Homo sapiens: one gene and its partners. The protein of the gene in region 3 interacts with the protein of the main gene of each other region in a biochemical or structural test. Each region holds a gene or a part of one and is shown on either strand. Other genes may lie near its edges.

What was found.
Region 1: the proteins of PIAS2 (region 3) and MITF form a complex in vitro, tested with the Homo sapiens proteins (one study listed by BioGRID).
Region 2: the proteins of PIAS2 (region 3) and GTF2IRD1 form a complex in vitro, tested with the Homo sapiens proteins (one study listed by BioGRID).
Region 4: the proteins of PIAS2 (region 3) and FLI1 form a complex in vitro, tested with the Homo sapiens proteins (one study listed by BioGRID).

What each region holds. Positions count from the first base shown.
Region 1 is NC_000003.12:69,931,446-69,938,472, reverse strand, and holds part of MITF (microphthalmia-associated transcription factor), read right to left. Parts: intron 1,882-7,027; exon of another isoform or gene 1,751-1,881; coding exon of another isoform or gene 1,718-1,750; intron 652-1,717; coding exon 424-651; intron 122-423; coding exon of another isoform or gene 107-121; exon of another isoform or gene 1-106. UniProt on the Homo sapiens protein: Transcription factor that acts as a master regulator of melanocyte survival and differentiation as well as melanosome biogenesis.
Region 2 is NC_000007.14:74,456,888-74,463,914, forward strand, and holds part of GTF2IRD1 (general transcription factor II-I repeat domain-containing protein 1), read left to right. Parts: intron 1-7,027. UniProt on the Homo sapiens protein: May be a transcription regulator involved in cell-cycle progression and skeletal muscle differentiation. May repress GTF2I transcriptional functions, by preventing its nuclear residency, or by inhibiting its transcriptional activation.
Region 3 is NC_000018.10:46,907,498-46,914,524, reverse strand, and holds part of PIAS2 (E3 SUMO-protein ligase PIAS2), read left to right. Parts: intron 1-7,027. UniProt on the Homo sapiens protein: Functions as an E3-type small ubiquitin-like modifier (SUMO) ligase, stabilizing the interaction between UBE2I and the substrate, and as a SUMO-tethering factor.
Region 4 is NC_000011.10:128,753,071-128,760,097, reverse strand, and holds part of FLI1 (Friend leukemia integration 1 transcription factor), read right to left. Parts: intron 1,984-7,027; coding exon 1,772-1,983; intron 1-1,771. UniProt on the Homo sapiens protein: Sequence-specific transcriptional activator. Recognizes the DNA sequence 5'-C[CA]GGAAGT-3'.

The DNA of each region.
Region 1 (7,027 bases), on a different chromosome or scaffold from region 3:
AATATTCCAGACATTCACAACAAGCGGAACTTCTAAACAGCATGTCCCACACCTCTTCTATTTTTGCTTTTCCTTTTCCACCTCCCCTTCTCCTCTCTCTGCATTCTCACTGCTTCATAAACTGAAAGGCATGGAAGAGAAGAGAGCACTCAGCTAAGGAAGAAGAAGCAAGTGGCAAAAGTGTCCTCGCCTCCACATTTCACTTGGAGAGGGCCAGGTCTCCCGTCATGTGCTCTACACCCAATAACCCAGCGATGGAGACAACAGGCTGGAATGCCACAGCCACGATGGTGAATCGGGGACAAAGGCTGGTAAATGTGGCCACAAGGACAAACTAGAGTCCACAGTTAAGTGTGGGAATCATATTCAACAGACAAGTTATTTAGCATAAGAAAACAGGAGAGGAGAGGAGACATGAATTACCTCTTTTTCACAGTTGGAGTTAAGCGTAAGCATAGCCATGGGGCTGTTGGGTGCGCTGCTCCCCGGCACCGGTGGCATGACATGATCGCCAGGCTGGTTTGGACATGGCAAGCTCAGGACTTGGTTGGCATGTTTATTTGCTAAAGTGGTAGAAAGGTACTGCTTTACCTGCTGCCGTTGGGCTTGCTGTATGTGGTACTTGGTGGGGTTTTCGAGGTGGGTCTGCACCTGAACATAGCCATGGAGGGAAAAGAAAACAGCGCTGTTATTTGTGAGTTTCAGACGGCTCTTCCTTCAGGCACAAACATGAAACTGACCAGGCCACCAACAGAATAAATTATTAAGCCTTTGTTATGTACCAGGCACTGTGCTAACGGATTTTGATATTACTGAAGTTTAAAGTCTAACTAGTAGGATTTGGTGTAATACTTTGCCCTATTTTATTTCCCTGCTAATTAACTATACGTCTCTTTCAAACCTTGTATCCTTCTTCTCATATCTAATAATTAAAAGTTTGAAATTATCTTAGGGCAAAAATTTCCCCAACACACATGAAAGGGTTTATTAAGATCAAACAACAATGTAGAAGTGGCATAATTGTTTGTTTCACTTTCCTTGGCGAACAGAACAGCTTTCTTTTTAAAACACACACACACACACACACACACACACACACACACACACCTCCTTAAGAACCAACTGTGTAAAATGGCTGTAGAAAATAAATATAAATCTTCCAATGATTAAATCAACTAGTTGTGGATTAATTCTCCCACTTTTCATTTGGACATGATTATTCAACATTGTAATTAAGAAAAAACTCAACATAAAAAGCAATTCTACATTAAGTAGTTTCTTTCAAATGCATAACACTTACACGTATGTGTTTTAAAAGACATGACTATTAACAAGCCAACAGGATGTTTTTTCTCCTTTCCTACAGACATTAATTCAGAACGAGAAATACTTTTCCCCAAAAAACAACATTATTCAATTTTAAGTCACTTTTTTCTTGATAAAGACAATTTAATCTTATGAGCAATGAACAGGAGCTGATGAAGATAGTTTAGCCACACACTAGGCCAAAAAAAAAAAAAAAAAAGAATCCTACTAATATTTACTTTGTTCAAAACTACATTGAATTACTTCTTATGGCATCAAATAATAAACAGCATTAAAAGAGCAGATTTATACTTATTGAAAACAGTATGTCTATTACAATAACAAAAAGTGGATTAAATCAATTTATTGCATTATATTTCAAAGACTGAATATGAGTCAGAATAAATCTCACCTGATAGTGATTATATTCTAGCATTTCCAGCATAACAATGTTTTAGGTGGCACCAATCCAGTGAGAGACGGTAGACTATCCCTCCCTCTACTTTCTATAATTCCAATTTGAAGATGGACTGGCAAAGAGAAGGTACTATAAACAAGGTATCCCGAGACACCACCGGAAACTTTATCACAGAAGCCCTGCTTATAATAACCTAAGCTAATTAGTTATGCATGTAAAAAAAAACGTTCACATAAGGGCCTTTTTTTTGGAAGCCCTACGAGTTTGGTCTTAAATGTTGATATCAATTTTTCCCCCTGGCTTGACGTCATGCTTTTTTTCATAAATATAAAAGAACCTTTTTAAGTGACGAGCTATCAAAGTCAAACTCACTGTCAGATCAAGGCCAATTCACTATTCATCTTTAGTTCCAGTAGTATTAATAGACAATGGTATTTCTCTTTCAGCAATAGGTTAATAGCAGAATGCCCCTTTGGAGGAGACATCATCTAAAAGCTACTATTACATGAGACTTTTCCAATGGCCGAATAACTGCCACTTCCGACTGCAGGATGACTATCTTTTAGTATAGAAGAGAAGAGACTCTGTGCTGAATGTTCAAGTTCAACAGCCTCTTCTTGCATCCTGGTCTTAATATGCACCTTATTCTTAGCTACATAGATGTGTAACCTGCCTATTGACCTCACATCAGGAAGACCGGGCACTATCCTAAATAGAACATAGCACACACAGAAGTGGATATATATTTATGTGGATAATAAGAAATAAATATCTCCCCTATTTAATTCTCAAATGAAAAAAGCATGAGCATTTTTGCTGAGAATTTTTACATATTATTCTTAAGATTACAGAAGAATGAGTTATCATATACAACACTGATATATTTACATATTTATTCCTTTATTCATTCATTATTGACTGTTAAGTGCTAAACACTGTACAAAGCATAGAATATACATTGTGAACAAACAGATATAGTTTCCAGCTTTATGAAACTTATATTCTGGGGTGAGGCAAAAAAAGAAAAGAGGCAAGCAAATATATACTTATAAATTATGATAAATGCTTAATATCTACTGCTGACAAATGTTATGTTAAGCTAAAAATTTGAAGTTCAATAATGTTGTCTAAATGCCCAGGATAATGCAGTCCGTTAGGTTGACAATCTCATATTGTTTCAAATGACTGATTTAATATGTACACAGAGGTTCACAGAGATTTTTTTTTTATAAAGGGTCCAGACATGATAATGATGACAGTAGACATTACTAAAATAAACATAAAATGAGGGCAATGAGTAGAATGTGCTTATTTCACTATTACACTTAAAAAGAAAAGAGATTCATGTTTAAAAATAAATGTTAATTCACTGGCAGATCCTAATTCTTTAATGAATCAGAATATTATGCTTTAGTAAAGAAAGAAGCAATTTGCTTTCTATGTGGCACTGTCAGTGAGGTCTTTATTACATCCAGGTTTGGGTAAGCAGAATGGGATATATTTGGCTCTTTTACTGTTAATAACTTTTTATTTTTCACGTAAGTTGAAAGCAGATGGCCTATAAACACTATGCAGTAGACAGAACATCTCCAGCTGTTTCTAACCCAAATACCTCAAACAGGCAACATAAATGAGGAACATGAGCTACGAGGAAGGTAATAAGGAGTAGTGAGGTCTGTGGCAAACCAGAGGACACACATCTATCTAGCAGGAACAGCAGATAAAAACTGCAGCTGATTGTGGCCATGTGGGAATATGAGTCCAGCCTAGCTCAAAATCTCCAAATTTTTCAAGGGTAGCTGGCAATCCAAACTTCTTTTTTAAGTAAAATCCTCCAGGTTTAAAGATCCGATGCTCAACTGTTTTGTGTTTCACAGAGTACAAGCCTCGGCCCACAAACTACTAGAAAATAATCTCTATTTTACACTGTCTATAAGGATAATCTTCATATTTACATTCCCTTGGAGATAGCCTAGGTTATGGGAAGAAGTTTCTCTTCTGAGAAATTAGTCCAAATCCAGGCATTTCCTGGTGCTTCTTTGAAAGACAATGTGCCTGACAACACAGACAGTGGAGTTCTTAACTTGAAACCTGGGTTCAGATTCTATCTTTGCAACTTAACAACCCGTGTACCTTCTGCAATTCATTAACTTCTCCAGGCCCTCATCTCCTAGCATATTGAATGGGAATGACAGTAGAGCTTGCCTCATATGTGTGTTTTCTGCATTAAATGAGATCATGTTTCTAACGGCCTTAGCACAATATCTAAAACAGCAATTCTCAAACATTTTTGTCTTAGGATCCTTTTACACTCTTTAAATTTATTGTGTTTACATGGATTATATCTATCAATATTTAGCATATTAGAAATTAAAATTGAGAATTTTTGAAAACACACGATTATACATTAGTAGATATCTCACAGGATGTCAGAACAATGACATCTCAACACGACATGTAGCCTTCGGAAAACTCTATTGTTTACTGGTGAAATGAGAGTGAAAAAGGAAAACAATATCTTAGTGTTATTCTGAAATAGTCCAGATCTGGCAGAACTCCTGCAAGGGTCTTAGATACAACCAGGGCCCTCTGATCACACTTTGAGAACCCCTGATCTAGAATGTGGTTGGCATTCTAGCATCATCACTGCACCAGCAATGTCACTCCCCACTGTGGACAGGTGGTGTGTGACATAGCCTCTCTATGTTTACTTCCCTCCCTGAGAAGATGCTGGAGAAAGATACTAACCCTGTCCAAACTCCCTCATAGCATTATTATGAGGCTCTATAGCCCTTTGACAACTTAAAAAGCCATATAAATATAATTTTCTGTCTTCAGCCACCCTAATTCATAGCTTTTTAGTCAATAACTTTGCTTTCATTAATTTTTAAATAGCCAAAGAAGTATGCAAATGAGAACATATATGTAGCATTAAAGAGGACAGAAACATCTTTATGATTTCCTGATAATGTTTGCATGTTTTTGACTTTCCAGATGACTAACCACACTAAGAAATTCAGATAGCAAAAGTTGAGTACTGCTGAACACCTGAAGTATAGACAGCAAAATAAAGCTAGAATACTTTATCATAAAATATTATTTATTGATATAACTTATATTTCATATAAATTATGCTAGCTATCTGAGTTAAAGGGCAAACACCCAAAGGCTTTGTAACTTTTATTCATTGTTAGCACTCCTGTAATTTCACCTGTTTCCTTTCTTCATTCAGATCTTGAATGGATAGCAAGAGAATCGGAATGGATCACCTCCTAACTGTCACACTTCAGCTTTACCACTTCCTGGGTAAAACTGACAGGTTATTTTCCATCAGTTTCATTCTAAAGAGATCCTGGAGCACATCACATGTCAGTTTAAGATGGTAGCTATAGATACTACCATCTTGGCTGACAACAGAATTTACTGGGGAAGAAATATCCCTATCTAGATATCCACTATTCTTCTATTCTCTCTACTATTTGTAAACCAGAATTCAAGTAGAAGCGAGTGTAGATTTTCTTAATCCTTTTAGTTTATTTATTTATTTATTATATTTTTAGAGATAAGGGTCTTGCTATGTTGCCCAGGCTGGAGTGCAGTGGCTATTCACAAGTGCAATCATGGCACACTACAGCCTTGAACTCCTGGGCTCAAGTGATCTTCCCACTTCAGCCTCCTGAGTAGCTATGACATGCTTCTACACTCAAATGGCTTTATATATATATATTTTTAATAATTCAACAAAATGTTCAGATTTATCACTTATGTTTAGAGAGATAATTTGTTCTTTTGCTCAGCAAGTTTAAAGAAAACTAAAGGGATTACCCTTTAATCAATTGTTATCTATCACCACACCACTATTCTTTTCATACTGTTTTAAAAATGGCAATCCATAGAGAATGTCAGTTATGCAATCATATTTCCTGAAAAAAGCGGTAAAACAGAGAAAGCTAGCTTTCTTAAATAACTAGGATAGTCTTGCAAAAGGTCACATCTGATTAAGTGTCGAGGTTCTTTTCAGTCCCACAATTACATTACCACAAAAGAAAACAAAAGCCCAGAACATATATCCTTGGACATATAATCTTGTTTACTGTACAATCTGTACAAAGCTGTCCTTAACAAAAAGTAAAAACAACAAGGGTATGAATCCTGGCCTAAGGGAGAAGAATCAAAATCAGATGCAAATACAAAGCAAACCAAAGAGTCTTAAATAAAGAAAGGTTCGAAATGGCTATGGTTGACAAACCCAGTGCTTTTTCTCTACAACAGGAGTCTGTCCACCCATCAGCCCAACTCGGTCTGCTGCCTGTATGGTCTATAAAGTAAGAATGGATTTTACATTTTTAAATAGTTGAAAAAAAATGAAAAGAAGAATATTTCATGACACATGAAAATTATATAAAATTCAGATTTCAATGTGGATAAATAAAGTTTTATCAGAACACAGCCACACCCATTAGTTGACATGTTGTCCAGGGCGGCTCCCTTGCTGCAATAGCAGATTTGAAGAGTAGCAACAGAGTCTGCAGGGCCCCCAAGGCCTAAAATTATCTACATTGTGGCTTTTTATAGAAAATGCTGACCCCTGCTCTCTAGGAAAGTTTCACCAAACTAGAATTGAACTTTCCTACTCAACAGAAGTTTTAGCAGGATTTGAAGGAAAGAATGGGGTGATTTTAATAAAGAGAAATAGTATATGTATACGTAATTTTACAGTTGTTTTTCCAACTACTGTCTTAACTGGACAAGCATCTTTGTAAGAATACAGGATATGCTTAATTACCCCCCACCCTTTTTAAAGCTAAAGAAAACAGAAACTAAGAGGAAACCTAAACAACTTGCCAGGGTTAGAAACCATAGCCATGTCTCCATTATTCTGTCCGCAGAGGCGAACTAGAGAAGCTCCCTCTTCTGTGGGTCAGTTCTGATCTAGGACTTTAACTGAATAAGAAGGGAAGATAAAACTGTGTAAATCCAGGGGTGTATTCCAGGTGCATATTCCAGGTGCATATCCCAGGTGTGCACAAATAAATATATATACATTTATATCACATATTTATGGGTCTGTATACTTTCATACTACTTCCTGTCTTATTACATTGTAGGCTTCTGAATTCAGAGAATTGAGCTGTAAATATGTATAAAAGAAAAGGATAACAAATGTACTTTTCTGAAAATTTGATGTTAAAACAGAATAGACTAGACTAGCCCTATCAAAAATTCCCAGCAAGTCTTTTATCCTTAGCTAATGACCTATAAAACAGTATGCTTATTATAAACCACAAGACAGGCATACTTTGG
Region 2 (7,027 bases), on a different chromosome or scaffold from region 3:
CCTTCAGGACTTGGCTTGGCTGTGGTATCTTTGGGCTGAAGACTTCCTCGTCCTCAGGGCTGGCCATGGTTCCACCTTTATATCCCCATGATGTCCTCTCTTTTTTTTCTTTTTTTCTTTTTTTGAGACAGTCTTGCTCTGTGCCCAGGCTGGGGTGCAGTAGTGTGATCACAGCTCACTGCAGCCTCGAACTCCTGGACTCAAGCCACCCTCCCACCCCAGCCTCACAAGTAGCTGGGACCGCAGACAAGGGCCACTACACCTGGTTAATTTTTTATTGTTTGTAGAGATGGGGTCTTGCTATGTTGCCCAGGCTGGTTTCGAACTCCTGGGCATGAGGAGTCCTCCCACCTTGGCCTCTCAAAGTGCTGGGATGACAGGAGTGAACCACCGCGCCTAGCCAACATCCTTTCCTTCCTTTGTCCCAACATTGATCTTACTCAGATGTTTACATCTCTCTCCCCAATTGCACTAGGGACAGGAAGGGATGGAGGCTTGCTCCTCAAATACTTGTTAAATGGCTACATGTTTGAATGAATGAATGAATGAAATCCTGCTCTTGAGCCTTGACCTAAATGGCTAAGCAGACTCTCTCCTATTTTTCTTAAATGCTCATCTCTGGGGCAAGTTCCCCACCCTGGTAGGAGTCCCAGGGTCTCTCCCTGAACTTCCTGGGGCCCCCTCTCTCCCCACTACCCCAGCCTGTGTCTTCTCCCAACCTTAACCCTGGGGGCTTTGCTCCCCAATGTCATCCTCTCTGTATCTCTCAGTTCTCTGACTCTCGCCGTTTGTAAGTATCTCTCTCTCAGATGCGTGGCAGCCAGGGTCACAGCCAGGTTCTTTGGGACAAGCCAGGGGTGTATGCCCAGCTCCATGGGGCCTGCAGAGGCTTCAGGGGACACCCATGGAAGAAGACCTGCAGGGCCAATTTATAAACAGAGGAGCAGAGCAGGACCCAGGGCTTGGAATCCATGCTGAGTTACGTTTTTGTTTTTTTTTTTTTTTTTTTGAGAGGGAGTCTCACTTTGTCGCCCAGGCTGGCATGCAGTGGCGCCATCTCGGCTCACTGCAACCTCTGCCTCCTGGGTTCAAGCGATTCTCCTGCCTCAAGTAGCCGGGATTACAGGCATGCTCTACCACGCCCGGCTAATTTTTGTATTTTTAGTAGAGATGGGGTTTCATCATGTTGGCCAGTCTGGTCTAGAACTCCTGACCTCAAGTGATCTGCCCGCCTCTGCCTCCCAAAGTGCTGGGATTGCAGGCATGAGACACTGCGCCCGGTCCTGAGTTCAGTTTTGATTGGGGGGCTTCCGGGATAATATGGGGCCGCTAGGACAGGGACCCTTAGTGTGACTGGAAGGGAATTTCCTGAAGGAATTCATAGCAGAGGTGGAGTGGTGGGAAGGATGGTTTCTGGGGGAGAAGGAGATGCGTGAACCTGGCCAGAAGACAGTGTGTTGTGACAGATGATTGCTGGTGAGGGGGTAACAGTCTCCAAGGTGTAGATGTTGGGGGCTCCAGATACGGCAGGAGGGGCCTGGCCTCTCGGAATCCCCTCAGCCCCATCTCATAGAAACATGTGCTTTCTACCCAGGCTCCATACTCCGGAAGGGAGGCAGGACCCTGTCACTTTCTTGGCCTACTTTGGAAGTTCTCAGTCAGGTATCTCCAGGTGTGGCAGAGGGGCTTTGGCCTGTAGGGGGTGTGGTAATGTGGGTTTTGGAGGCAGAAAGCTTTTCAGGAAAGCCCCCTGGTCCATCACCCCCCTTTCTTTTTTTTTTTTTTGAGATGGAGTCTTGCTTTGTTGCCCACGCTGGAGTGCAGTGGCACGATCCCAACTCACTGCAACTTCCACCTCCCGGGTTCAAGTGATTCTCGTGCCTCAGCCTCCCGAGTAGCTGGGATTACAGATGTACACCACCACACCTGGCTAATTTTTGTATTTTTAGTAGAGACGGGGTTTCACCATGTTCGCCAGGCTGGTCTTGAATGAACCCCTGACCTCAAGTGATTGGCCCTCCTTGGCCTCCCAAAGTGCTGGGATTACAGGTGTGAGCCCCCAGGCCCGGCCTCATCATCACTTCTTCACCCACCCTATTTTGGTAGCTCTCTCTCCACTCGTCCTGTGGAACTGATCCATTCTCGGTCCCATTCCCTTCTCTCTGGGCCAATCTGCACCTAGGTTTGTGGCTTCATGAGTATGGAGGGTCGTGCAGAAAGGGGCCAGGTCTGTAGGAACCTGGGTTCATGCCCTGGAAATTTGCCCATTTAAGATAAGTTAGGGCCGGGTGCGGTGGCTCATGCCTGTAATCCCCAGCACTTTGCACTTCGGGAGACCGAGGCGGGCGGATCACCTGAGGTCAGGAGTTTGACTAGCCTGGCCAACACGGTGAAACCCCATCTCTACTAAAAATACAAAAATTAGCCAGGCGTAGTGGCGGGCGCCTGTAATCCCAACTGCTCGGGAGGCTGAGGCAAGAGAATTGCTTGAACCTAAGAGGTGAAGGTTGCCGTGAGCTGAGATCGTACCATTGCACTCCAGCCTGGGCGACAAGAGTGAAACTCTGTCTCAAAAAAAAAAAGATAAGATAGGTGTCCTGAATAAGATAGGTGAAATGGGTGAGGATGTACTTTATCTTACACGGTCTTAGGGAGTGTCTCAGGCGGTGAACAGAACTCTCTCGCCCCTGAGCTGGGGCCTGGCTGACCCAGAGCTATTTGTGTGCCCACCTGTCACCCTCTTTCAGGACCACCTGCTTCAGGTTGCCAGATTTAGCAAATAAAAATAAGGATGCCCAGCTAAAATTGGATTTCAGACAAGCAAGGACTAATGCAATATTTGGGATGAACTTCTAGCTAAAAGTTACCTGTTGTTGATCTGTAGTTCAGACTGAACTGGAGGTCTTGCATTTTATCTGCCAACCCTACAACTGCTGCCTCTGGGGCGGTGAGATGGATGGGGTTTGGGGAGGGGCCAGAGGTGTGTGTGGCTGACCCTGGAGTTGGGATCAGGGCTCAGTGGAGGCCCCGGGGATGATCTGGAGCGAGTTTGAATCGAGTGGAGCTGATTCACTGAATCTTGGCTTTTTTTTTTTTAATTTGTATTGAAATGAGGTCTCACTCTGTCACCCAGGCTGGAGTGCAGTGGCACAATCTCGGCTCACTGCAGCTTCTCCCTCCCCGGCTCAAGCGATCCTTCTGGCTCAGTCTCCCAAGTAGGTGGGACCACAGGCACACGCCACCGTGCCCGGCTAATTTTTTGTATTTTTGGTGGAGATGGGGTTTCGCCATGTTGCCCAGTTCCTGAGTTCAAGTGATCTCAAAGTGCTGGAATTACAGAAGTGAGCCACTGTACCCAGCCAGCAGGGTCCTTTTTCATTTTTATTTTATTCTATTTTTTGAGACAGTGTCTCACTCTGTTTCCCAGGCTGGAGTGCAGTGGCGTGATCCTACCTCACTGCAACCTCCAACTCCTGGGCTCAATGTGATCCTCCCACCTCAGCCTCTGCACCTAGCTAATTAAAAAAAAATTTTTTTTTTTTAGAGATGGGGTCTTGCGATGTTGCCCAGGCTGGTCTCAAGCTCCTGGCCTCAAGCGATCCTCCCACCTCAGCTTCCCAAAGTGCTGGGATTACAGGCAGTATCCTTCTAATGTCCTTGGTCGGGCCTCCTCCAGCCTGTGGCTCGAGGGTCTAGATCTCCTACTGGCCTGGGTGGCATGGAGGGTGTAGTCTAGGTGGCCTGAGGGGTGCCCAGGGATCCCCAGTTTGGGAAGTCCTTGTCTTCAGGGATTTCTGGCCAATGTGGTCCGTATATTTAGAGATGCTGGGAGGAGGGGGTGGGAAATTGCTGGAAACACCCTATTATACACCAAGTAAGATTTTCATGTAGGATTGGCAAGGCCTGAGTGCTGGGAAAGTGTCTGCAATGGCTACCTTTCAAAGCTGGGAGACCCCGCCACGGGGGCGGTTGTGGACTTGAGGGGCTGACCCCACAGCACGGAGGCTGCTGGGAATTCCTGCACCTTTGCCATGCTGCCACCTGAGGCAGGTTCCCAGCACCTGAGCTGCAGCCTCTGGAGTGGGGGAAATGGGGGGAAAGTAAGGGGCCGGGGTCATGGGGTCCACGTCCACCTTCCGCCCGCCTGGGCAGTTTTCTTGGATGTAAAAGGGAGATGGCTCTCCCCAACCTGCCTGGGTCCCAGTGTGGTGCTGTAGTCCAAGGGACTTGGTGTGACCCCGTGGGGATGCCACAGCATGGGTGTGTGGGACCCCCGGGGGCAGGTCTGTGGTGGAGACAGGGTGGGAGGGCCTGGCTTGAGGGCTTGCGGTCCTGGGCACTTGAGGATGCAGAAGAGGCTGCATGGTTGGGGAGGGTAGGTAAGCAGGGGGCAGCTTAGCCCTTTCCCCTCCTGTTCCCTGTGACAGAGGGGAGACCCTCCAGGCTGTTTGTGTCTTAGATGGTTGGCCGAGGGTAGGCCTCTTTGCTGGCTGGGGTCTAGCAGGGTCTCAAGGTGCATTTTCTGGCTACTGGCAGAACCACCATCAAAGCAAGTCCGTATCTTTTCGTCTATCCATCTGTTGTTACGCCAGCCAGTGAGGACCTTGCAGAGGCGTCAGGCCTGAGGGAGTCTCATTAGGTCCTGGTCCCCAGCCCCCGGCTGGCACATGAGAAGGGCCCACTTTATATTTTATTTTATTTATTTATTTAAGATGGAGTCTCACTCTGTCACCCAGGCTGGAGTGCAGTGGCGCGATCTCGGCTCGCTGCAACCTCTGCCTCCCGGGTTCAAGCAATTCTCTTGCCTCAGCCTCCTGAGTAGCTGGGATTATGGGTGCATGCCACCTCGCCCAGCCAATTTTTGTATTTTTAGTAGAGATGGGGTTTTGCCATCTTAGCCAGGCTGGTTTTGAACTCCTGATCTCAAGTGATCTGTCCACCTTGACTTCCCGGAGTGCTGGGATTACAGGCGTGAGCCACTGTGTCCGGCCCCACTTTATATTTTATTAAAAATATCGTTGAGGAGTGAAGGCTATGCTATACCAGGAACTTGCCTGGCTCACACCCTTATGTCGTCCAACCCCCGTCAAGACATAGAACAGCGCTTTGGGAGGCTGAGGCGGGAGGATGGCTTGAGGCCAGGAGTTTGAGACTAGCCTAGACAACATAGTGAAACCTCCATCTCTACAAGAAGTACAAAAATTAGCCAGGCGAGGTGGCTCATGCCTGTAGCCCCAGCTACTCAGGAGGCTGCGGCGGGAGGATCACTTGAGGCCAAGAATTTGAGACCAGCCTGGGCAACATAGCAAGACCCCGTCTCTTAAAAAAAAAATTAGCCGGGTGTGGTGATGTGTGCCTGTAGCCCCAGCTACTTGGGAGGCTAAGGCAGGAGGATTGCTTGACCCCAGGAGTTAGAACAATCCTGTAACCCCTAAAAGTTTTTGAAGCCCGTTTGTTCATCCTTGTCTCTTGTCCTGACCCCAGCAACCACTGATCTGTCTTCTGTATATGGTTTTCCATTTGTACAATGTCACATAAATGGAATCCTACAGTCCACAGCCTCTGAATCTGGCTTCACACAGCATAATGCATTTACGGCATTGCTGGGTACACGGGTAGCTGGTCCCTTCTGGTCCCTGAGTAGTGTTCCATGGTGTGGATATGCCACATACCTCTAGCCACTCTCCTCTCTAGGGAAATCTAGCAAACCGGCTTGGCCGGCCCTGCATCAGCTCGGGACCCCCCAGAAGAAGGTGGTTCCTCTTTCTCATTTTCACAAAGGCACCATCTGGCTGGCGGGGGGCCTGTGGCCTGCACCCCATCACTACCCACCCCCCACATCAAGAGCTGACCCCAAGCCGGGGGAGCTGCTCATCTCCGCCCTCAGAGCTGGAATTTCATCTTCTGTTTCTGGTGACTCATACTGTGAGCCCCGCGATGAAATTACACCTGCCTGCCGCTGCCCTCCGGGCCTCTGGCCCCATGCGATCCTCCCGCCGCCATCCAGGTGGGCTCTGGAGTAATTGAGGCTATGGGGCCAGGACAGCTGGAGGTTGAGGGCGGTGCCAGGGAGGGGAGCTGTCTGTGCCCTGGGGTGTCTTGCCCATCATCTTATGTATCCCCACCCTGTGGGAGTCTGGGGTTCCTGGTGGTGCGTCTCTGGTCTTCACTCCTGCAGCTGTTTTGCTTGGGGTAGAAGTTTCATGTTTGCCTGAAATAAGAGCAGGACTTCTGAGGGTAGGGAAGGAAGGTGGTGAAGCCACTGTTGCAGGCAGGAGCAGGAGTTAGGATCAAACGGAACAGGGCTGGCCGAGTGATGTCACATCTCTGGGCTTTGGTTTGTTCATCTGTTCTTATTATTATTTTGAGACAGGGTCTCGTTCTGTCACCCAGGCTGGAGTGCAGTGGTGCAATCATAGCTTGCTGCAGTCTTGAACTCCTAGGCTCAAGTGATTCTCCCACTTCAGCCTCCTAAGTAGCTGGGCTTGGAGGCACTTGCCACTACACCCAGCTAATTTTTTTATTTTGTAGAGATGGGGGTCTCGCCATGTCGCCCAGGCTGGTCTTGAACTCCTGTGTTCAAGTGATCCCACAACCTCAGCTTCCCAAGTGCTGGGATTAGAGGGGTGAGCCACTGCGTCCTGCCTGTTCATCTTTAAGTGGGAGAACAGAACACTAGGTTTGCAGGGCTGTGAGACTCAGCTGAGGGTAATGTGAGTGTGTGGATTACCACAGAGCCCTGGAGGGCCCCAGGGGCCACCAAGGAGCGGGTGGTGGGGACATGTGAGGCTCAAGCCTCCTGTGCCCCTTTGGGCCAGAGTAGGACCACTGTTGTTTTTTGTTTTTTTTTTTTTGAGACAGAGTCTCACTCTGTCGCCCAGGCTGGAGTGCAGTGGCGTGATCACGGCTCACTACAACCTCCGCCTCCCGGGTTCAGTTGATTCTCCTGCCTCAGCTTCTCGAGTAGCTGGGATCACAGGTGCGTGCCACCACACCCGACTAATTTTTGTATTTTTAGTAGAGGCGG
Region 3 (7,027 bases):
GGTCGCCTGACTATTTCAGTTTTGGAGACTGCTGCGTGAGCCAGTACCAGAGATCTTGGCTGGTCATAGCAGAATATGGCAGCTCTATACCTTGTTGCCTTTCAGTCCGGGTGACCAGAATACCAGCCCACCTCTCTTCCAGTTCTTCTGGGAGAGAGAATCTGATTGGCTGAGTTTAGGTCTCTACTTCTGTTCTAATCATCCATAGCCGGGGGCTTAGAGTCAAAGCACACAAACCTGATCAGCAGATTATCCTGATGGATTGAAGGAAAGGAAGTGGGGAAGTTCTCTGAAAAGGGAAAATGTGGCCTGTGTGCTCAAAGATGGTTACAATAATGTGTTATATATTAGAAGCTTTCAAGGTGCCAGAGAAGAAATTACTCAATTTACCAGTTGCTTATTTATGGCATCTGTGTTGTTAGGAGCTGAAGGAGTGATTAGTTTGTGAATGAACAGATTTTGAATTAACTAGTTGTGAATTAATGTGGGACAAGATCATAAGATTTGATGGCCTGAACTTCTGTCACTGCTGCCTTGCTTCCTCCTCCAAAAATGGTCTGGAGGGCAGGGCTTGGTAGCTCACACCTGTAATTCCAGCGCTTTGAGAGGCAAGAGGATCGCTTGAAGCCAGGATTTCTGGGTTACAGCTAGCTCTGATCTTGACACTGCACTCCAGCCTGAGCGACAGAGGGAGACCCTGTCTCAAACTAGTCTGTAGAAGAGCTAAGCACAGGGATGGAGGAGAGCAGGAGTTGAGTTTCTGGAATCACTTACCTCTTCTTTAACCAGAGCAGCTTTTTCTTTACCCTTCCAGTTGCATATTTCCAATATTGTGGTCTGCTGGTGGCAGTCATTCACAAAAAGGTCCCTGCTACACTTTAACCTGGTTAATCTACTTTCCCTACTTCTCATCACTCAATGGGGAGGAGGGGGATCTATTGTAGTGACTTTTTTTTTTTTTTTAAGGATCTCCCTTCTGTATTCTTCATCCCCTTCTTTTCATGCATTGAGAATTTATTCTGTGTGTGTCTCAGAATGAGAGAGAATGTGCCTGTGAGAATCTGGTTGTGCATTTGGCCTGAGAGAGCCAGCGATGATAACTTTATCAATAGATACTGGGTAAACCAGAACATTTACCAAACTGGGTAAATTTGTTGTGTCATAATTCGAAGATCAGATTTGGGTCTTTCATGCTAAGAAGCCTAAGTAATTCTGTAACAGAAGGTCTTCTGTCTAGAAGGCTTAAGTGTTTGGTTTCCTTACACCTACCAGGAGTCACCATCCTGATAACTTCAAGTGCTGTTAGGATGCAGCAGGAGAATGGGAAGTTAATGGGGGATTTGAGGTTAGAGGTCCTCATCACGCTCCTCTCCCCATTTATTGGGCAGGGATACAGACTAATAGCTATGATAGATATAACAGAATCTTCCATATGATTCAAAGCTATTATGGGATGCAACTAAAATTTCCAAGGCTTCACCTGAGCTCATGTCTATGAAAGCACGTTCGAAACAAAATATATTTAACTTAAAGTGAAATAGGCTGGGCGCAGTGGCTCAAGGCTGTAATCTCAGCATTTTGGGAGCCTGGGGCGGGTGGATCACCTGATGTCACATTTTTTATTCTCTCATTTCCATTTCTCATATTTTTTAAATGAAAGCAATATTTGTGCAGACAGTACTGAAAAAATTCAAAATAGTGAAAGTCTTCCCTTTTCCATTAAATCCCACTCCCATTATGCTTTTAACCATTTTTGTTTGTTTGTTTTTAGGGTTTTATTGTTGTTCCAAAAGTCTAAAAATATACCATGCCTTTCTCTCTATATTTTTTCAACTCAAAAAAAATATTTCTTAACTTTTTGCTAGATAAGAAATTTAGGTCATTTTCCACCTGTCCTAGACTTTGATTTCTATCAGTTACATTTTGGTTCCTAATTTTGCTGTTATTTTTAACTTTTTATTATAAATTTCTGTTTATTGACCTATCACTTTTAGACAGTATATTTGGCCCTTCATGTCTGTGAATGACTTATCTTTGGTTTCAACCAACCTTGGATCAAAAATATTCAGGAAAAAAGGTTGGTTACATCTGTACTGAACATGTACAGACTTTTTTCCTTGTCAGTATTTCCTAAACAGTATAGTATAACAACCATTTCATAGCATTTGCCATATATTAGGTATTGTAAACTAGAAATGATGTAAAGTACGTAGGAGGATGTGTATAGCTTATATGCAAATACTATGCCATTTCATGTAAGAGACTTGAGCATTCTTGGATTTTGGTATCTGCAGGGGACCCTGGTACCAGCCCCCTACGGATACTGAGAGACAACTATATTTCCTCACTTCCTGGTCTTTCAGAAAAAGATATAACACCGATCCCTTTCCTTTTGGGATTTAAAAGCCAAACCTTGCCTTTGTTTTTCCCTCCTCCCTTCCTAGCCTTTGTTTTCTTTTTTCCTTTTTTTTTTGAGACAGGATTTTGCTCTTGTTGCCCAGGCTGGAGAGCAATGGCGCCATCTTGGCTCACTGCAACCTCCGCCTCCTGGGTTCAAGCGATTCTCCTGCCTCAGCCTCGCGATTAGCTGGGATTACAGGCACCTGCAACCATGCCTGGCTAATTTTTGTATTTGTAATAGAGACAGGGTTTCACCATGTTGGTCAGGCTGGTCTTGAACTCCTGACCTCCGGTGATCCACTCCCCCTCCCTTGGCCTCCCAAAGTGGTGGGATTACAGGCATGAGCCGCTGAGCCCGGCCCCAGCCTTTGTTTTTGGTTAGTACTGTTACATTGGCAAGATTTATTGCATTTATATAATGTTTTATAACTCTTCTAAAGTTTTCTGTGCTTCTGCAGGAAAATCTAGAAATTGAGTACTAATAGCCACTCTTTTAAATATGTATGTTGACATGAGTATTAGTTACTATAGAACCAAGTACTGTGGAGCCATAGAGAAACTTCACTTCTGTTAAACCTGTGATCCTTAAAAAGGAAATATAACAAAGTCAGCCGGGCACAGTGGCTCACGTCTGTAAGCCCAGCACTTTGAGAGGCCCAGGCAGGCGGATCGCCTCAGGTCAGGAGTTAGAGACCAGCCTGGCTAACATGGTGAAACCCCGTCTCTACTAAAAATGCAAAAATTAGCCCGACGTGGTGGTGGGCACCTGTAATCCCAGCTACTCGGGAGGCTGAGGCAGGAGAATTGCTTGAACCCGGGAGGTGGAGGTTGCAGTGAGCCAAGATCATGTCATTGCACTCCAGGCTGGGTGACAAAGCAAGGCTTCGTCTCAGGAAAAAAAAAAAAAAAAGAAATATAACAAAGTCCTGGTTGAATGAGGAAAGCTCATTGAAGTTATTTTTAAAATTTAATATTATAATGGGTTCTCATGTTGTAGCCATTCAGCTTGTCTTGGTAGACTTTCCGGAGTCTTGGCCTGCCTTTTCTAATTTGGGAAGCTTAGTAGACCTGTTACCCAGCTGTCATCCTGGGATTACTTCACATTGTTCTCCTGGGTTAGATCTATTGTTATTTGGATCCCATGTTTTTCTCTTTTAGATACCTTTTTTATTTTACAGGAATACAGCCTTCAATAGTTGTTTCTGGAAGGATATGCTGGTGATAAACTTTCTGAGTTCTCGAATGTTGAAAATGGCTTGTCTTTGTTCCTGATTGAAAGTTTACATGTGGAATTATAAATTCCTCAGAATTTTGAAAACTTTGCTGTGGGAATCTAAAATACTTGGTGTGCTAATCAGAGGTCCATTGCAGATCTGATGGTTATTCTCCTGTAGAAGATTGTAATCTACAATTGTAGTCTACGATCTACGGGATTTGTTTACATTCTGAAAGGTTTCTTTGATTTTGTCTTTGAACTTTTCTATAAAATTTATTTCAGTAGTTATCTTTAATTTATAAGAGTTCTTCTATCATCTTTCATTTTTCTTTCTTTTTAAATAGCAACCTGTCCTTGATTTATGGGGAAATACCTTGAATTTCTCTGATGCTAATTTCTCTAGAGTTCTTGAGACACTTCCCTGAATTGGTGACTCTAACAGTGGGTTTGTATTTAGGTATTCCATACTAATTTTTGTATTTTAAATATTTAAGTTATTTGATAAGTACAAAAGATTATAACAGGTAAGGCGTATGTAAACAAACATACATATAATTACCAACCAGTTTACTAATTCATTAGTGTAACTTTAGCAGGATGCACTTTCCTGATCACATCCACTGCAACCATGTCCACCTTCACCAATGACAGTAGCCATTGTACTGAATTTTGGATTCATCATTCCTGGTCTGTCTTTATACTTTTAACATATATACATATGTAAAATTTATTTATTTATTTATTTATTTTTTGAGACGGAGTTTTGCTCTTCTTGCCCAGGCTGGAGTGCAGTGGCGCGATCTTGACTCACCGCAACCTCCTCCTCCCAGGTTCAAGCAATTTTACTGCCTCAGCCTCCCGAGTAGCCGGGATTACAGGTGTGCACCATGCCCGGCTAATTTTTTTGTATTATTAGTTTTCACCATGTTGGCCAGGCTGGTCTTGAACTCCTGACTTCAGGTGATCCACCCGCCTTGGCCTCCCAAAGTGCTGGGATCACAGGTGTGAGCTACTGTGTCTGGCCATCCATATTTCTTAAATCCAAATGTTTGAAAATGAAGAGAAAAAAACTGTAAAGTTTCACCAAACTTGTCTTGCAGAAAAACCCTGACCTGCACTGATATTGTAATCTTTGTTGATCTCACTTAGTGTGAATATTTGTATGTTTCACTGTAGAGATTCTAGGAATAGAATTGCTGGTATTTAAGAAGAATGTGTGCATATTCACCAATATTGGATAATGTCAGATTATCTTCCAAAAAAGGTGGTGTCAGTCTTCGTTCTCTCCAGCAATGCAGAAGTTTTCATTACTCAGCTTTCTTGCTAACATCTACTTTTGTCACACTTCAAAAGGTTTTATCGGTTGGGCATGGTAGCTCACGCCTGTAATCCTAGCACTTTGGGAGGCCATGGTGGGTGGATGGCTTGAGACCAGGAGTTTGAGACCAGCCTGGGTAAAATGGTGAAACCCCATCTCTACCAAAACAAAACAAAATTAGCTGGGCATAGTGGCCCACACCTGTAGTCCCAGCTACTTGGCAGGCTGAGATGGGAGGATCACCTGAAGCTAGGAAGTGAGCTGTGATCATGCCATTGCACGCCAGCTTGGGCAACAGAGTGAGACCCTGTTTCAAAAAAAAAAGTTTTTACCCACGAGTATAAAATACCACCTTTTAGTTTTCATTTGCTTTGCTAATGAGTTTGAGCATCTTTTACTATACTGATTAGCCATTCTTCCCTTTTCTCACATTCCTATTCATGTCTTTTGCCCATGTTTGTACTAGTTTTTTAAAAAAATTATTTCATACTGATTTTTAATAGTTTCACAGTTGGATGCATGTGGTGCAAATTTCTCCTTTCAATTGGGCTCACTTTTAAATCATTTTTATTTTTATTTTTTGAGATGGAGTCTCACTCTGTAGCCCTGGCTGGAGTGCAGTGGCGTGATCTCAGTTTACTGCACCCTCCACCCCCAAGGTTCAAGAGATTCTCCTGTCTCAGACTTCTGAGTAGCTGGGATTACAGGTACCCGCCACCATGCCTGGCTAATATTTGTATTTTTAATAGAGACGGGGTTTCACCATGTTGGTCAAGCTGGTCTCGAACTCCTGACCTCAGGTGATCTGCCCACCTTGGTCTCCCAAAGTGCTGGGATTATAGGCATGAGCAACTGCATCCAGCCTTATGCGTTTTTTGATGAGTAGAAGTTCTTAATTTTTATGTGATTGCATTTATCAGGCTTTTCTTTATGGATAGTGCTTTTGAATCTTGTTGAAGAAATTTTTCAACAGAGTTCTCGAAGATATTTTCCATTATTGTAAAAGTATAAGACGTAGTTTTTTTGTTTTTTGTTTTTGTTTTTTTTTTACCTTTTCTCATTTAAGGTTTTAATCCACCTGGAGTTGATTTTGTATACAGTGTGAAGTGGTGACCAAGATGCATGGTTTTTCCTCAAAGAATAATAAATTGTTCCATCACCTTTCATGCAAATTTTTTTCTTCACTGGTTTGGATGCCATCACTCATCTGTGCTTTGGTTCTGGACTCTGGGCCGTTAGTCTGTTTTTACAGAAATTGTTAAAAAGTTACAGTAACTAAAACAAGATGATGCTGCTGCTAGCATAAACAAACTTCTTGCCTGGTGAGGTGGCTCAAGGCTGTAATCCCATCACTTTGGGAGGCCATGGTGGGAGCATCACTTGAGCCAGGAGTTCAAGACCAGCCTGGGCAACATGGTGAGACCCCATCTCTGTGTAAGATAATATTTTTTATAATAAAAAACCAAACTTCTTTTGATATATAGCATACACATAGGAAGTACACAGATAATGAAATTATAGCTGGATGAATTTTCTCAAAATAATAATCGTGCAGGTCAAGAAAGAGAACATTACCAGCACTCTAAATATTCCCCTCCCCAGTGGCTAACCTCACCTCATTCTTCCAAAAGCGACCTACTATCCTAACTTTAACAGATTAGTATTGCCTGTTTTTGAACTTTATATAAATGGAACCTGTGTAGTATATATACAGTTGCCCCTTGGTGTACCTGGGGGATTGGTTCTAGGATCCACCCTCCCAACAGGAAAATCATGTGTACTCAAGTCCTGAAGTTGGCCCTGCAGAACCCATGTATAGGAAAAGTTGGCCCTCTGTATATGTGGGTTTCACGTCCTGCAAATACCATATTTTTGATCTGCATTTGGTTGAAAAAAAAATATGCGTATAAGTGGACCTGCACAGTTCAAACCAGTTGACAAGATACAGTTGACCTTTGACTAACACAGGTTTTTGTTATTGGATATGTTATTGTTATTCAATATTCAACTATATGTTATTGTTATTCAAAGGTCAACTGTATTCTGTTTCTGTATATGTATTCTGTTGTTTCTGCCTTTTTTTCTGTTTCGTT
Region 4 (7,027 bases), on a different chromosome or scaffold from region 3:
TTCATCTGAGGGGCTGCAGGCTCAGAACCTCTGAGCCTTCCTGAAATCCTGGGATCTGGAAAGGTGGCTGAGATCCCAGTCACTGGTTTTGGTTAGTAGGGTTGAAATGTGGTAGGCCTGGCAGTTCCCACAGGCAGGTCTGAGGCCATGAGCTGCTCTGGAGGAGTTCTCCCTCCCAACCATGCTCATTCCCTTCTCTCTCTTCAATCTAGACTAGTTTCCTCGGTGACCTCATCCACTTTCACAGTTCAGACTCCTTAGAGATGATGCCCAAACGTAAATTCCAGGCCTGAAAGATTATCTGAGCTTCAGTTCCCAAAGCCTAGTAGACGTTTTTATCTGGATGTTCTACCCATTGCTCACAAGGAATCTCAAAGAGAACACTGACATCCCATCCTAAAGCATTTCCTGTGCCACCTTTCTGCGGCTGCTCACAGCACCAGCCTTTAAAATGTGCAGGCTTTAGTCGCCTTTGATTCTTTCCTGTCATGCACCCCCTTCATTCACACTTTACTCACCTAAGCCCTGTTAATCATCTCTTTGCTATCGCCCTTATGTATCTGTCCTTTTCACTTTCCAAAATCACTATCATCACTTAGTTCCGAACTTCATTATTTCCTATCTGGGATATTTTACTAACTTCTTCACTTGTCTTTCTGACTCTCCCATCCTACCGTCTGTGCGCAAGGACTGTCAGCTCGCTAGTCTTAAGTCACTGCTCTGATGAGGTTAAATGTCACGTCTGTGCTCAAAGTCAGCCTCTGGGTTAAATGTCACATCGGTGCTCAAAGTCAGCCTCTGGCTGTGGAATAAATGGCACATGTTTTCAGCCTGCCATTCAGGGCCCTCTGTTGCTTTTTATTTTCATCTCTTTGTGCCTTTGGCCCAGTAGATTATCTGATATTTTGTGAATAAGACTGATGTTCTCTGTCTTTCAAGTCTTTGCTCATAACAATCACTGTCACTATAGAGCACTTTCCTAACGCGTCTCAGGCACCATCCCAGGTCCTTTCCCTGAGGCATCAGAGTAACGCTAGAGTAAGGACCATAAGGAAGTGAATATCCCAGTCCTGTTTGAGAAGGGAGAAAGCTGGTGCTCTGAGGGGTTTCGATGACTTGCCCAAGGGGCAGAGGCAGGACGCAAAACTGAGGCCGCCTGTCCACTGTCCTCTTCCATGACCCTGTGATTTTCTCTCCCTGGACCCTCCTGTCTCCATTTCTACAAGCAAAGCCCGAACTGACCCAGTATTGTACCCACTTCATGCACGCCTTCCAGGTGCCTGCCCCCTCCCAGACACAGTGAGCCCCCACAGGAAGGTAGACACCTTCCTCATCCCTTCTCCACTCTTACTAAAGAATGGTTTGGTCACCTTTGCTCTGCTGAGACCTGCCCAGAGGGGTTAAGTATCTTCAACAGGACAGGGAAGAGTAGCTTATTGCTAAGCTGTCCCCAACAGGACTGGACCTGGGCCTGGGATTAACAAGAAATAAGTGTTCCACGAGTGTCTGCATAGGCGCTTGGGGCCTGACTCCTACCTGGCCTCTGAGGGCTTCGTGGGCCCCAGAGAGGCAGGGGGGCTTCCTAGCCCTACTCCACCCCATCATCAGTCTGTGGCCCTCTCTGCCTTAGCTCTCTAGGGACTGACACAGGCTTCCTGGCCCAGCTCTAGAGCCCCATCTGCTGCAAAAACCTTAAGTGCCAGAAGCCACTTGCTGCAGATCTGGCGACTTTGTGCCTTCCCCCAATCCTGCACAGGCCTGGTGAGCTTACCTGGATCCATTCATGTGGTCATACTCCCGCTTGACGTTGACCCTCACTGGCTGATTGATCCACTCCTGCTGTGGTGGGAGGGGGTTGATCTTGTGGGGCTGCCCGTAGTCAGGACTCCCCGAGGCAGTCATGTCGGCCTTGGGGAGATGGGCTGCCGCTCCGTACGCTGAGTCAAAGAGGGACTGGTCGTCGCTCACCACCGACAGAGCCTCCTGCAGGGCCAGAGAAGAGACAGAAAGCCCAGTGTCACTCTTCACCCAAGCAAGTGACACTCTTGCTTTGAGCTGGCAAGGTGGCCCAGGGCTGCCCCAGGACAGCTTGTCTGGAAGTTCCTGTTTGACTCACACTCCAGGGGGCAGGTTTGCCCTTATGCAAACCAGATGGGTGTTTGCAGGTTACCTGGGTGAGGAGGGACTTTGGGCAGTGGAGTGGGGATGGAGGAATCATGAAAGTGGGTTTGTTTATTGGTTCTGTAGTCTGGGACCCCCAAAAAGGAGGGTGGGGATAGGGAGGCCAAGAATAGTGGTGACTTGGCATGGAATATAGTATTGTGGTGGTGTGTGAATGCTAGATTTTTCCAGGCATAAGCAGAAATGCCTCTTACGAGCTGAGTGGAGTCATCAGCAATGAAGGGGAGATGAGATCCAGCATTTATTTTCCAGGCAAGGCCAGTGAGATCCACCCAGAGAGGCTAGGTGTGCTGCTCAAGGTCACACAAGGGAAGGGTGGTGCCCATGGCTGTGGCCAGGCCAATTTCAGTTTCCTTATTTGTAACAGGGATAAAAATAGTTTTAGCACAGAGTCGATAGGTGGATTAAATGAGAAGATCTGGTGTGGGGGTGTAGCTTGTAAGAAATGCTCAGTGGTTTGCTGAGGGCCCTCTAGGAGGTGCTGGTGCATCCTGTAGATCTCAATGTTGATGACTCAGCCAGCCAAAGGACGAAAGAGGAACCTCAGACACGTGAAGTGCCAGTCAGGGCAAGACCCTCCAAAAGAGGTTGTTGGGTCCTCCCACTCATATTATCCCATCACTGACTTGGGTGTGACTTTGGGAGATCATGGATTAAGAAAAGAAGCCTTGGCCAGGCATGGTGGCTCATGCCTGTAATCCCAGCATTTTGGGAGCCTGAGGTGGGAGAATCTATTGAGTCCAGGAGTTCTAAACTAGCCTGGGCAATGTGGCAAAACTGTGTTTCTACAAAAACAGAAAGAGAGAAAGAAAGAAAGAAAGAAAGAAAGAAAGAAAGAAAGAAAGAAAGAAAGAAAGAAAGAAAGAAAGAAAAAATTAGCTAGATATGGTGGCATGTGCCCAGCTACTTGGGAGGCTGAGGTGGGAGGATCACTTGAGCCCCGGAAGTAGAGGCTGCAGTGAGCCGTGATCGTGCCATTGCATTCAGCCTGGGCGACAGTCTCGAAACAACAACAACAACGACAACTAAAAAACTTTGCACATTCCGGAGATCTGCTACCAATCAAAACATGAGGGTAAGAGTCTCCCATTATTCCATGTCTCATCGAATCACAGGCATCCAAGGTCAGGGACCAGGGCATAGTGTTCACTACAGTCACATAATTACACCAAAGTAAGTCTTCAGAGAAGATGGTAGTCATCTATAATTGATCTATAATCTATATAATCAATAATTATATAATCTATAATTGTGATAATAGTTGTGATAATACATGCAAAGTACTTAGAAGTCTCTGGCACATAGTGAGTCACACTCAGAACATGTTAGGTATCATGATTATTAGCATTCAAACAAAGATTCTCTTAGGCCACCTGTTAGGGGCTGCCTTGTGTCCTCACAAAATTCATATGCTGAAGCCCTTACCCGCAGTACTCAGAATGTGATTGTATTTGGAGATAGGACCTTTAAGGAGGTAAGGTGAAATGAGGCTGATAGGGTGGGTTCTAATCCAATATGACTGGTGTTCTTATAAGAAGAGGGAATTTGGACACACAGAGAGCCCCCAGGGGAGTGTGTGCACAGAGGGGCTGCCATGTGAGGACACAGCAGTCATTGGCAAGCCAAGGAGAGAGGCCTCTGAGGAAAACCAACCCTGCTGGCACCCTGATCTTGGACTTCCAGTCTCCAGAACTCTGAGCAAATAAATTTCTTTTGCTTAAGCCACTCAGCCCTGGTATGTTGTTATGGAAACCCTAGCAAATGGATACACCACCTTTACTTGAAAATGTAGTGATAGGTGAACAGCACTTGTTAAAGCTGGGATTTGTCTACCTTCCTTGTGTAATTCACATTCCTGAATTGAATGTCTTCTTCAGAATGAATGCTCTTCATATGCCTGTAGAATTACAACCTGCTCCATGGGCTGTCTCTTGTCTCCCAGGGCCATTCTCCACCCCAGCGGACAGACAGCCATAATTCAAAAAGGGAGGCTCTTCTATGGCTGTTTTCAGCTGGGATCAGGGAAAAAATACTGGAATATACTCTAGGAGTCCTGCTTTTGCACCAGAAGGCTTTGGATGGTGTAGGTGCCTCCAGACATACATTCAAAGCAGAGTTGCCCACACAATATTAAAACACTTACATCCCCCAACCGAGGGGATCTCCCTAGCCCTAACATCTGCTGGGATCCTTCTTCATTTTCTACCAGATGCCCTTGAGTCATGCTCAGAGTAAAGCTGTGCTTGTCAGAACCATTTGTTTCTTGGTTATTATATCCACTCTTGATTTCAGCTAGAGTTCAGCTTTGGCTTCATATCCTAAATTTTGAACTGTTATCTGGGCTCAAGGAATTATGGTTCTGAGCTGAAAAGGGTGACATTGCAACCTTTCAGACAGCTGTCCCTGACTCCATGAAATTCCTTGAGCTCCGCACTGGAAGCAGAGGACACATTACCACCTATGACCCCTAAGTGTCTTTTGGTGATAAGAGTGAAGAACATGTACCACAGTCCTGCTACAAAAACAGATGACATTTCAGGAATCAGGTAGCATCTTCTGCTGTAGAGAATGGCTTACGTTCTTAGTTTATCATTCATGAACCTTGGAGTTTCCAGTAAAATAATTTCTTTCCCTTCCCTCTTCTAGGTTGGGGGAGAAGATGACAGAATATCAGAGGCAAAGAAGCCCGGGAGGCAGGGCTGGGCACAGTGATGCTCCATAGATGGGCAAAAAGTTCCTCCCATCATTATCCTAAGGAGGGTGGACCAGGCAACAGGGAACACAGGATTGTCCTGGCCAAGGGGACATGCAGACGGCAAAATCAAGACTCACAGCAAAGAGAATACACAGAGAACACAAAGCCAGCGGTTCTGGAGGCAGACCCAGGAGAGACTTCTTAAGGAAGTGAGTGGTACACAGCTAGAAAAAAACAAGTGATGAGATAGAGTGTAGGTGTAGAAAGGGCACAAAACCAGTTTGAACTCATTTTGGAATAGAAGTTTCCTTAAGAATGTAGTTCACAATCAAGGAAACTCCAATCAAGTGGCAACATTGTAGGAGGAGAGCGTCCCGGTTCACCGGGAATGCCTCACACTTCTGTCCAGTCTGGGCATTTCTCTCTGAGACTCTTCCCTCCCTGACGACCCACTGACATGCTCTTCCCTCATTCAGTACACCTTGTGCGCTCCCTGGCTGGATCCAGCTCCCTTGCAAGTTGTGAATACTGCTGTCATCCTGCCACAATCTGCTCAAAAACCTCAGAGAGCTCCCTAGAGATGGACCACAGCAAATCTCTTCTCAGCCACTTGTCTTCCAAAGGTCATCTTTGTCCCACCTGCCACACTTACATTGCACAACTTCCTCTTGCTGCAACTTGTGTCCAATTCTAACTATTCTCACTGCTCCACTAGACAAGCCCTACTCAGGTATGCTTCTGTGCCTTAATTTTGTGGTTCCTTTTGCTGCAAGTAACCTTTCTTTACTCTTTCACCCTGATGCACAATTATCTTTGCCATTGTGTAAGGTAAGTGAGATCTTCCTGAGAGCTTCCTGTTTCCATGAAACCTTTCTGATGATGACCTATGACTCCTTTGAGCTGTTAACAGCTCGTGAGAATACTGCTTTGGGTATGCATATGTGCACACACACACACACACACACACACACACACACACACACACATCCCCCTTCTATTTGCAATCATGGCTAGACAAAAAGCTTTTTTTCCATTACAATGTAGAGAAAAGAAGAGATAGATCATGGGGGCTGTGAAGAGAGAGAAGATGAAGGAGAAGAGTTCCCTGTCTGGCTCACTGGGCTGAATTTGAAAAGCCAATATGGGCAAGGGAAGGGAGGTGAGGGCCCCTAAGTGGAATAAAAGATTTGGGGAGATAAGGCCCCAGACAAGCTGATTTGAGACCCAAGTGAAAGAGCAGAGTTGGGGAGGAGAGCATTCTTGTGGCTTCTGCAAATAAACGGCACCCCTTTTTGCAGTTCAACAGCTTTAGGAGCACCCCAAGACCATGCCCTTGGCAAGTACACTGTCATTTTTATGATGCCACTGGTAGTAGGGAGCCCTCTCCAAATTGCTCTGGGAAGACCAGAGTAGGGACGGAGGAGGCAAACAAGAGGAATGAGTCTGGGCAACTTGATGTGGCTGCTGCTGTCTGCAGGCGAGGAGCTGCTGAGCTGGCAGAAATTTCACTTATTTGCAGCTTGTTACACATGAGGAGCTGTTGCTACTTCATGTGTGTCTTATAAAGCTCTTTACTTAAACTCTTAAAACTTTTTAAAGTTTAAACTTAAAACTCTTCCTTGTACTTCAAGCTCTTTACAGAAATGAGCATGTTGCTAGCGTTCAAGAACTTTCCACGGATAAATCATCAATAAGTACTTAACTGAGGTGATAGGCTGGGTGTAGGAAGAACACCAGCATGCAAATTCACCAGCCATCCTCAGAGGGACTACATTCCTTCCGTTTCTCATGACTTTGCTTCTCCTATTGTTGCTGATTATTTTATTCAAGGGAAGAGAAGTTAGTTATTATTTAAAAGACTTGTGGGGTCCATGAGGCTTTAGACCATGCTATGTAAAATTGACTTCCAAGTGAGAAAGACAGGAGGCGTGGGCTCCTAGCCCTATGTGGGGCTCAGCTCTGGGGTTCCTTCTTGACCCAACAATTGTCTCTGTAAAAGGAACCCCTGGGCTGGCTTAGTCATTGGCTTCTGAGAAGCACTTTCCTTTGCAGAATGCTGGAAAGGCTGGGTCTGTGGGTCCAGAGCCACTGAGTCCTAGATCCAGAGGGTGGCATAGGGTCCCTTGTTCCAGGCAGGGAAGTGCCCCAGCA